Homo sapiens: one gene and its partners. The protein of the gene in region 3 purifies or fractionates together with the protein of the main gene of each other region. This does not show direct contact. Each region holds a gene or a part of one and is shown on either strand. Other genes may lie near its edges.

Evidence for each region. The genes of interacting proteins can lie anywhere in the genome.
Region 1: the proteins of ZNF718 (region 3) and STK3 purify together in Homo sapiens (affinity purification with mass spectrometry; one large-scale study listed by BioGRID and IntAct). This does not show direct contact.
Region 2: the proteins of ZNF718 (region 3) and TRIM24 purify together in Homo sapiens (affinity purification with mass spectrometry; one large-scale study listed by BioGRID and IntAct). This does not show direct contact.

The regions. Positions count from the first base shown.
Region 1 is NC_000008.11:98,454,133-98,456,410, forward strand, and holds the end of STK3 (serine/threonine-protein kinase 3), read right to left. Parts: exon of another isoform or gene 2,107-2,278; coding exon of another isoform or gene 2,053-2,106; exon of another isoform or gene 1,869-2,052; coding exon 1,710-1,868; 3' UTR 501-1,709; downstream 1-500. UniProt on the Homo sapiens protein: Stress-activated, pro-apoptotic kinase which, following caspase-cleavage, enters the nucleus and induces chromatin condensation followed by internucleosomal DNA fragmentation.
Region 2 is NC_000007.14:138,585,759-138,589,258, reverse strand, and holds part of TRIM24 (transcription intermediary factor 1-alpha), read right to left. Parts: 3' UTR 1-3,500. UniProt on the Homo sapiens protein: Transcriptional coactivator that interacts with numerous nuclear receptors and coactivators and modulates the transcription of target genes.
Region 3 is NC_000004.12:122,614-127,666, forward strand, and holds the start of ZNF718 (zinc finger protein 718), read left to right. Parts: upstream 1-1,887; 5' UTR 1,888-2,057; coding exon 2,058-2,060; exon of another isoform or gene 2,061-2,158; coding exon of another isoform or gene 2,159-2,635; exon of another isoform or gene 2,636-2,978; intron 2,979-4,450; exon of another isoform or gene 4,451-5,053. Other genes in the region: uncharacterized protein LOC124900641, read right to left, coding at 2,159-2,635. UniProt on the Homo sapiens protein: May be involved in transcriptional regulation.

The DNA.
Region 1 (2,278 bases), on a different chromosome or scaffold from region 3:
ACCATTTTTAAAAAGGAATGGAAGCTTTCCAGAGACAATATACCTTCTGTGACAGACATTAGTGAACTCATCAGCTTTTCCTGTTCTCTCCCCTCCAGCTACGTGGTGATGCTACTCTTCCTGACTCCCTCGAAGTTAGGAGTGTCCATGTGACTAATTCTGAATACTGGGTTGTGGCCAACCAGACATGTATCACTACTGGCTGGAGCTAGTATGAAACTCTCCAGCTCCCCTTCTCCTTATTGTGGTGACCACAGATATCTCAGATGGTTGAGGCCCTGTCAGCAGGTCCCTGGGTGTGGATGATAGGAGCAGGGCGCCCTGCCAAACTGGGGTGGGCCTGGAGCAAGAGTGAGGAATAACCTGTATTATGTGAAGCCGCTGAAGGGTGAGGGTTGTCAGCACTGCATAATCTAGCCTGTCCTAACTAATATACGTCCCTTGCTTGGAAAATGCAGAGTCCAGGTCATGAGTTTTAACAAAGATACAGAAACGAAATATGCTGGGTGGCACAGTGAAATTTATTTGTCTTTATGATTTACACATAATAATTAAACACACAAAAGAAAAAACACTGTCAAGATGGCCATATGTAGCTTAGGAAATGACTGGTCCCAATGCAATCATATAAATGTTCATTCAGCGTAAAAATGAGTTTCTTTTTAATGGTTTTAATCTTTTTTTTTTCAGTCCCCAAGGCTTGTACCACTCAGTACAAATGTTTTTGCTACTGGGTTATCATCAGGAACATGATGTTTACCAATTCCCAGGAAATGAATAAAATCAACAGAAACATCCTGTGACAACAGAGCACATTTTCATAGAAATGAAATTGATGAGCTTATTACAGTTTGAATCAGTTCAGCTATTAGATCTACACATAAAACATGAAACAATATTAACAAATTACATTTGTATTAAGTTTTTATTTAAAAATATTTATCACACTTTTTTGTGCAAGGGTTCCATTGATTTCTTTGGTTTTAAACACGATAGATCTATTTTACCTAAATATATATAGTTCTATTTGTACCAAACATCAAAAATCAAAAAAACAAAATTTCAAAGGGTAAAAATGGAATTATTGCTTCAATATAAAAAAGGCCTAGCCCATTTGAGAACTACTGCCATTATTGCTTTCCTATTTGAAAAACTATCCTGGAAATCAAGGAATGTACCCCATAGCTCCCTGCAGAAAGTATAAATTGGTTGCACATTATCATCATATTAATATGACCCTACCTTCACCAAAGCTATCCTGATCTTGTCCTTAAAAAATGAAACAAAGCAAAATAGCATAAATAAATAAGTTTACCTAAGGGGATACAATAAATAGCCTAGTATACTAGATAGGAATAAAGAATATTGTAACATAAAGCCCTTCAGTGCTGTACAATGCAACAATAGCTTTGGATTTTCAAGGTTTAGAGACCTTGAAAATCCATTTCATAACAGTTTTATTACTGGTATGCAGCTGACAGAACAAGAGAATACACTTCTTTTGTTCTCCTCATCTTAGAGTGAATGCACAGCAGATACAACTGTCAATTCTGCCTTTTGGGAATTTACCTGGGCATGTACCATTGTCACTTTTTGACCTCTGCCTAATTGTAGGGCAAAATCTTAGGATTAAAAATATCCAAATATTCCTTCAATTCCTAGTGGTTTCTTGGTCTCCAGAATAGTTAAAAACAGAGAGGAAATTAGACTCAAAAGTTTTGCTGCCTTCTTTTCTTTGCATCCATCGCATCCAGAATGGGCTGTCTTTTCGCAGTGTATCTCTGACGAAGTTCTTCTATCTCCCGTTCCATCATGGGGTCCAGTGCTTTTAACCGCATCTGTAGTTCTTCTAAACTTAGATTTTTCAACTAGATACAGAAAGAAAGATACCAATACAATGAAATTATCCACATTATCCACAATCAATACAATGAAATTAGACTTTAATGTCTAATGAGTTTTAACATAAATATTTCAGCAAATTCTTTACATCATCTTTGAAGTATAGTTCAACAATTAAAACAGGAATTTCTTCCTTGAAGAACTCAGAGGTCATATCTTGCAAGAACCTCCAGTAATCTGCAATGAAGCAATCCGATCCTCTGCCTTTAATAAAGGGCAAATGAGAAAAATACGCTGATGGAATTTGTAAAAAGGTACAAAGACAAATCCACCACTGCCAACAAACAGATTTTCAGAATATGTTCCAGGTATATTCACTCTAACTTTTTACATCTTTGCCAGCTACTGAGTGCTACAATAATCATGAACACTTGCA
Region 2 (3,500 bases), on a different chromosome or scaffold from region 3:
GAAAAATCTGTGATCTGACTGACTAGCATTATTCTCACTCAGAAACATGACACCAGTATGTGAATTACAACAGTAAATTCACATTCAAGATGAATATGCAATAAACATTTATAAAAAGACATCAACTATTAATTTACATAGGGCTATAAAATACTTTTAAAAATATGTACATGGTTATTCAAAAGGAGGAGCTCAATTTCAGTAAGAAATTATATGGTTGAACGCATGGTCACCATTTTTTTTTTTTTTTGAGACAGAGTTTTGCTCTTGTTGCCCAGGCTGGAGTGCAATGGTGCAATCTCGACTCACTGCAACCTCCACCTCCTGGGTTCAAGCTATTCTCCTGCCTCAGCATCCCAAAGTAGCTGAGATTACAGGCACCCGCCACCACACCCAGCTAATTTTTTTGTATATTCTGTTGAGGTGGGGTTTCACCATGTTGGCCAGGCTGGTCTTGAGCTCCTGACTTCAGGTGATCCACCCACCTCGGCCTCCCAAAGTGCTGGGATTACAGGTGTGAGCCACCGCGCCCGGCCATTCCCCATAATTTTTCTTTTTGTGACAGAGTCTTGCTCTGACACCCAGGCTGGACTACAGTGGTGCGATCTCAGCTCACTGCAACCTCTGCCTCCTGGGTTCAAGCCGATTCTCCTGCCTCAGCCTCCCGAGTAGCTAGGATTACAGGCATGGGCCACCACACCCTGGTGATTTTGGTATTTTTAGTAGAGATGGGGTTTCACCATGTTGGTCAGGCTGGTCTCAAACTCCTGACCTCAGGTATCTACCCACCTCGGCCTCCCAAAGTGCTGGGATTACAGGCGTGAGCCACTGCGCCCGACCCATTCACCATAATTTTAATGGCCAATCAGATCACTCAATTTCTCTCATTCACAACAAATACATATAAAATGAATGTATCTTCAATTTAAACCTAAAACCTGTTGTTCATATGCAGCAATTTACTTTGGGGATTCACATTAATTTGGACCAGAGCTCAGCAAAAGGAGTTCCTCTTCTCACTCTCTCTCCTTGGAACTCAAACGTAAGGAAGTGTCTAAGCACAGTAACAGCATAGCATATTGAAATGCAGTTTCATAAATGCAACAATCAGCTGTATACTCCCCCTTTTTTTGACTATGGAGGTAACCTTTTTGAAAGCATTCCTAAGCAAGTTATACTACATCTACACTACTATGTGGTAGTAAAATATAGCAGTAGTAAAGCCAGTTCTTTAGCTTAGAAAAGAAACTAAAACTACATTTTCCTTTTTAGTACCTTCCACTTTCCTACCCTTCCATTCAGAAAAGACAAGCAGGGCATGTTAATTCAAAAGACAAAATGATTACAATGCCAGATACCGATCTAAAATGTATTCTGCGTTGAATATGGTCTACATCCATCCATTTATACTTTTGCCATGGCCATATATATCACTGGTCAAGTACTTGGGCTTCCTTACACAGGAAAAGTCAGTTGCTTGGCACCTAGAAAAGCTGTCAGTGAGGTGGAACTGAGTAAATCCTAGCTCCTACGTGGTCTGCTCATCCATAAGCCCTAGCCAGAAGTGTGATAAACATTCAGCAATGGGGCCCTACTGGGCTCCTGATCCCAAATCCAGAGGGAAATCTCCCAGAGTTTATGGTCAAAGATGTACACCGGAGTGTACAAGTTTAGGTCAAGGTTACCTGAATCGCACTGAACTTTTGGGGGAATGCTTGATAAGTGAGTGTGGGTTATAGTTAGGCTCATTTTATGGTTTATTTCTATTTGAACAGAATTTAAGGATGACTTAGCTGAGATCCACCTGGGCACACAGGTACTTATTAATAAAGTCAAAGGATATTAATCTAAAGACCATTACACAAAGGCTATTTACAGAGAGAAACCCAAGACCTTTACTTTTTGTTTTTGAGACTGAGTCTCTGTCACTCAGGCTGGAGTGCAATGGTGAGATCTTGGCTCACTGCAACTTCTGCCTCCTGCGTTCAAGTGATTCTCCTGTCTCAGCCTCCTGAGTAGTTGGGATTACAGTTGCACGCCACCATGTCCGGCTAATTTTTGTATTTTTTGTAGAGGCGGGGTTTCACAATGTTGGCCAGGCTGATCTCGAACTCTTGACTTTGTGATCCGCCCACCTTGGCCTCCCAAAGTGCTGGTGGGATTGCAGGTGTGAGCCACTGCGCCCAGCCCCGATCTTTACTTTTAATATAATTATATTATGTATGACCAAAAGATGGTTCTCAACTGCCTTTCATTCAGCCAAAGATGGTTAGGGTGAAACAAATACTGTTTTGAAAGATAAATATGGCACTGAATGTAATAGTGACAGTTTGGGGTTCATTAGTCACATTTAGGAAATTATAGTTTTAGTCTCACAAGTTCTAACTCCCTTTTGTGATGATTCTCAAAATAATTTATCTGTTTTGCTCTGTTTTAACTTGGGAGACAAGTATGGAAGAATAAACTGTCAGACGAACAGTATTCTAAGATACCAACAATAAAATTATCAGCAAAAGCTCCACAGCTGCTGTGCTAAAAATAAAATGCTGGAGCAAAAAAAGACAAAAGGTGTATGCACTGTTATCAAAATCTGTTCAAACACTCTTTGGAGAACAAATGTCAAATGCAACTTTAAAACAACAATGACAAACATTACCATGTAACACATATTTGAAAAGTGAGTAGGACTTTTTAACAATACATAATTGACATATTATGAACAAGACCTATATATATAAACAATGGGGATCTATTGCTAACAAGTTATTTTCTCCCTGTATTTTATCTTTAGCAGTACCTGAAAACCCAATGAATTAGCCACAGGATATTTTCCACTTTAAGAAGTAAAGCCATGTAGATAAAACCAAGTCTTCTATGTTAAATTTATGGCAGGTGATATAATGCAAATAATAGCCTTCTTTCAAGTGAGCTCTTTTTATTCTATCATCCTAAGGAGAAAAATTTACTCCAGTTAATGTTTTATAAATACAGATTAACTTCGGCAAACCATTTAGATATTGTGTCAAATGCTGGATTAATGTATGGCACAGCAATTTTCTTCTATCTATCTATCTATCTATATCAGCTGAACCGGGTAGGTCTGGCACATTAAGAATATGCTTGTCCTCAGAAGATAAGTCTTTTGTACCTCTATCAATCAATCAGAAGAATAAAATCAGAAGTCAGATCAAAGATTAAGTTTGATGTTCTGACTCTCAAAAGAAAAACATGAGATAGATGCTTCAGGAAAAAAAAAAAATCACTATTAATTCCCCCCAGCTGCCTGCTCCCAAAATCCTACAACACATTTTCATTCCAAATTATAGACAGATGAAAACCACAAAAACGAGTCCCTTTCAGAGGAACTTATATTTAATGCCCAGTAGGGTATATGATGAAGAACCCTCACATCAAATACAGTGCACGCTGCTGTATTTATATTTTGGGTAGTTCCACTAAAAGCTATACTGCAAACAATGAGGCTTGTTGTAAAAGGATCA
Region 3 (5,053 bases):
AGGTCAGAACCCTCATGTCTGCACTCAATGTGGCAGCCACCTGCCATATGTAGCTACTGGGTACCTGGAATGTGGATGGTTTGAAGTAAAATGTGCTGCAAACAAAAAATGCACAGTGAGTTTAGAATAATTATACCAGAAATATACTTTACTTCTTTTTTTTTTTTTTTTTTTGAGACGGAGTCTTGCTCTGTCGCTCAGGTTGGAGTGCAGTGGTGCAATCTCGGCTCACTGCAAGCTCTGCCTCTCGGGTTCACGCCATTCTCCTGCCTCAGCCTCCTGAGTAGCTGGGACTACAGGTACCCGCCACCACGCCTGGGTAATTTTTTTGTATTTTTAATAGAGACGGGCTTTCACCATGTTAGCCAGGATGGTCTCGATCTCCTGACCTCGTGATCCACCCACCTCAGCCTCCCAAAGTGCTGGGATTACAGGCGTGAGCCACAGCGCCTGGCAAAATATAGGTATTCCTAATTATGTGTCTGGAGTTGGTTCCTTCCGGTGGGTTTGTGGTCTTGCTGACCAAGAATGAAGCCACGGACCTTTGTGGTGAGTGTTACAGCTTTTAAAGATAGCACGAACCCAAAGAGTGAGCAGTAGCAAGGTTTATTTTGAAGAGGGAAATAACAAAGCTTCCACAGCATCGAAGGGGACCCCAGTTGGTTGCCACTGCTGGCTGGGGTGGTCAGCTTTTATTCCACCTCCCATTTCCCCTTAATTGTGCCCTCCCGTGTTCCGTTTTTGTCCTATCACAGTGCCCTTTTTTCAATCCTCCCTGCAATTGGCTACTTTTAGGATCCTGCTGATTGGTGCATTTTACAGAGTGCTGATTGGTGCATTTTACAATCCCCTTGCTAGCTACAGAGCACTGATTGGTGCGTTTTTACAGAGTGCTGATTGGTACATTTTACAATCCTCTTGTAAGACAGGAAAGTTCTCCAAGTCCCCAGTTTACCCAGGAAGTCCAGCTGGCTTCACCTCTCAATTATATATTGATCACATATTAAAACAATAATATTTTGGATATAGTAGGCTAAAATTATCACAAACAATCTCACTTGTTTTTATTATTTTCGATGTGGCTAATAAAAAATTGAAAATTCACTAATAGCTAACATTTTATTTTTTAGAGGATTACTTCCTTCTTAAAATCTCATGTGTCCTACTCAAAAGACCAGAGGCCAGAAAGGTTATAAAACATTAAAATAATTGTCATTATATTGTTTCCGTTTGTGAACAAGTTTGTGTATGCACGCGTGCATGTGTACGTGTGTGTGCATGTGCGTGCATGCATGCGTGTGTGTATAATTTATATTATAAATGGACCTAACCTTACATACCACAAGGTTAAAAAAATGACCACTGGGCTGTACCAAGCCAAGCACAGAGATAACACCCCAGCCTGGGCCGGGCGTGGTGGCTCACGCCTTTAATCCCAGCATTTTGGGAGACATAGGCGAACAGATACCCTGAGGTCAGGAGTTCAAGACCAGCCTGGCCAACATGGTGAAACCCTGTCTCTGCTAAAAATACAGAAATTGGCCGGGTGTGGTGGTGGGCACCTGTAATCCCAGCTACTTGGGAGGCTGAGGAGAATCGCTTAAACCCGGGAGGCAGAGGTTGCAGAGAGCCGAGTTCGCGCCACTGCACTCCAGCCTGGGCGAGAAGAGCCAGACTCAAAAAACAAACACAAAAAACCTGCCTCAAAGTACCAGGAGGCCAGAGCCTGTCACTCTCGCCTCATTCAGTGCTGTGTATGGTTGCAACTTCTGTCACTCAAGGCCTGAGGCGGGAGACTTACAGCTCTATCCAATTAGAGCGCTGGATTGACAACTGCCGAATGAGGCGCGCAGCAGAGAGGAGGGTGCGGCATCCGGGATCTGGCGCGGCTTTTGCTTGTAGCTCCAGCCAGAGCTCGGTTAGGGCCTCATCGCTCTGCTCCCGCTCCTTAGGGAAGCCTCGGTGATTCTGCCACAGCCTCAGCCTCTGTGGCTCTGTGACCTGCCGGTATTGGATGATTCGTATCTAAGACTCTGGGACACTCCTGAAGTCGGGAAATGGTGAGTGTGCAGGGCAGGGCGTCCCAAGGCTGTGGAGGCCTCATCGGAACCGGCGGGAAATGGCGGCGGTGGGAGGAGTCTGTGAATGGAGTTCCCGCTCAGCCCTCTGTCCTCAGTCCCCTCCGGTGAGGGACCCGCGCTCTTGTCAGTCCCCGTACAGCGGCTCTGGCCCAGCCTGCAGCCCTCCTTGTGCAGCTCTGCGCCGGTAGCCCTGCACTTTCCCCGGGCTGTGGAGTGAGTAGGAGCTCATCCGGAAGACACCGCGGCGGCCTGCGCGGTGCCGGCGTGGGAGGAGCTGTGGTCCGGAATCCCGTCCCTACTTTACCCTGTTCAGAATGAGATTGAGGCCCCATCAAAACATGGAGTTCATGTGAGCAAACAGGACTTATTAATGGGAAAGCTCTGCCGTGGCTCGTGGTTTGGGGACTGCCAGCGGGTCTTGAAGGAAAGGCTTTTGTGAGGTGTGTGAGGAAGCGAAGCAAATCACCTGCCTGCGCCAACTTTGCCGCCAGTCCCCTTGCCCTGTGCGCCTCCTCCGCGTGGCTGTTCCTGAATACGCTGGTGTCTGTTCGCATCTTTTAGAATACGCTGGTGTCGGTGCGCACAGCGCTTCTCTTAGTTCTGTGAGTAGTTCTGCCACATTATTGAACTTGAGGAGGGTGTGGGCGTCCCTGGTTTGTAGGCAGGGGTTCAGAAATGAAGACGGGTGTCCAGAGGCAGGGACTGGCGTCTGCAGGAGAGCAGCTGCGGGAAGAGTGCTGAGCTTGTGGGGTCAGCGCTGACTCTGGGTGGTGTCGTTAGTGAGTTGCTGGACACCCCGTTGGGGTTGGAGCATTGACTGGTGTTGAGGAAACTCCGCAAGTTTTCTGTCAGAAGAAAGACATGGCCGAGTCTGGGTTGGAGGAAGTCACCTGGTGTCCGCAGGAGGCGCGGCCGGGTTCTGCACAGGCGCTGTCCCGCTGGGCACTGTCCTCTTCCTCCAGGCCTCCTCCCGGGGAGAAAGGGGACTGGGAACTTAGAGGAAAGCAGTTCTAAGAAACATCCCTTCCCCGCATCCTGCTGCCAGCCCCCACCCAATGCTAACCCACTCCTGAGCACGCCCACTGGGCATTCGCACGGCCACACCTGGCCTAAGACAGGGTTCTACCCTCAGGAATTGTGCCCATGGCAGTTTTGCTCCTACAGTTTTCTGCCAAAAGCACACGCAGTGCCCAGAAGACTCCTGGCTCATCTCAACCCCAGATCTGTTTAGCAGGAGCCCGTTTCCTTCTCCAACCCAGGCTTCTGGACCATCTGATCTTAATCTCCTATGCCTTTATGGACTCAGGAATCAGTCAGTGCGTAGCCCTGCCTGGGCCTGTACCTGTAGCACAAACCAGTCCTTTCATCAGTTGTGCCCTGCCCCCACCCCATGGCTCTTGATAGCTCCTTGCTGTCTTGTGCTTTTTCCTTCCCCACAAATCCTCTTTTCTGTGCATACAGTGTGCCCAAGTTCATCCCTTACGTGCCTACAAGAATTCAGACGTTAGGGAATTCAAGACCATGCCTTAGACCTGGCTGTTGTAGGAGCAAATACAAATTAGAAGAGGCTTAATGATTTCTCTTTAGAGTGAGGGAAGAATTTTTGCTCTTCTCCCTTTTCTTAAAGCATTTAGGTGGAAAATTTTTATAATTATTTTCACCAGTTTTTGAAATATATGTAAATCATTTTTATCAGTTAAATAGGTCATTTGTCTTTTTTGACTCAGACTTGTCTTTATCTAGGACTTGGGAACTATTGCTTTGAAATGTGAATAGCAAGAATATATCCCACAGTTTCTGTAGGAGGGTGGGAGGCTGCCTTCAGCAGGTACCTGGCTCCACATTGTGGGTCTACGTCCTGTCATGAAGATGTGGGAAGTTTATTTTTCTTTTGAATATTACCAATTAGAAAACCCAGATTACCTCCCAAATTACTAGGTGAAATAATAAACTGTGTAAATGGTGCTTTCAAGTCTTCTACTTAAGAACTAATGGTGACTTTTTTTCTGTGTTTGCAGTCTCTTAGTAGATTGCCTGTGATGCACATCACATTTTGGTTTAATTATATAACAAAACATTTTCTTGCTGTTCTATTATGGTGGAAAATTTTTTTAGGATTGGAGATAATTTTTCTCTTTTTTTTTTTTTTTAAGACGGAGTCTTCGCTGTGTCGCCAGGCTGGAGTGCAGTAGTGCGATCTCGGCTCACCGCATTCTCCACCTCCCAGGTTCAAGCGATTCACCTGCTCAGCCTCCTGAGTAGTTGGGATTACAGGCGCGCCACCACACTCAGCTAATTTTTTTGTATTTTTAGTAGAGACGGGGTTTCGCCATGTTGGCCAGGATGGTCTCCATCTTCTGACCTCATGATCCACCGGCCTTGGCCTCCCAAAGTGCTGGGATTATAGGCGTGAGCCACCGTGCCTGGCTGAAAATTTTTCTTTTAGTCATATTTTCCATGCACTGTTTAGAAGTACTGGACGTTATATACAAAGTGCCCACCAGGCTTCACTTGAGAGAAAAACCTTTCTTCTCAGGATTCCAGCCACAACCCACAATTGTATGACAAAGTGCAGCAAGGTGCTCCCCAAATCTGCAAACAAAATAGTCTCTCTATTTGGGATCTACAGTCCCTTCTAGAGCAGTTAGACTAGATTTCTACAAAAATCACTTCAGGACAGCAATCAGTTATTTCACCTCCTTCAGTGCTCCTGTCATCTTCAGATCTGACACGGATTCAGAGATCACGGGGCCCATAAACCCAACCAGGATCATACATGTGCATTGATTAAACTTGAGAACTTCAATTCTCTCCCTCCTCCCTTTGCCCAAATGCCCGCAAATGTGCATAGCTCACCAGCCCTCCAAGACCTAAATGTGCAGTTCCAAATTCTGAATTTATTTTCTGGGATTTGAGAGAAGAAAAGAACTTTTATTTGAGAAATACATGTTCTTTTAATGATCAGACCCAGA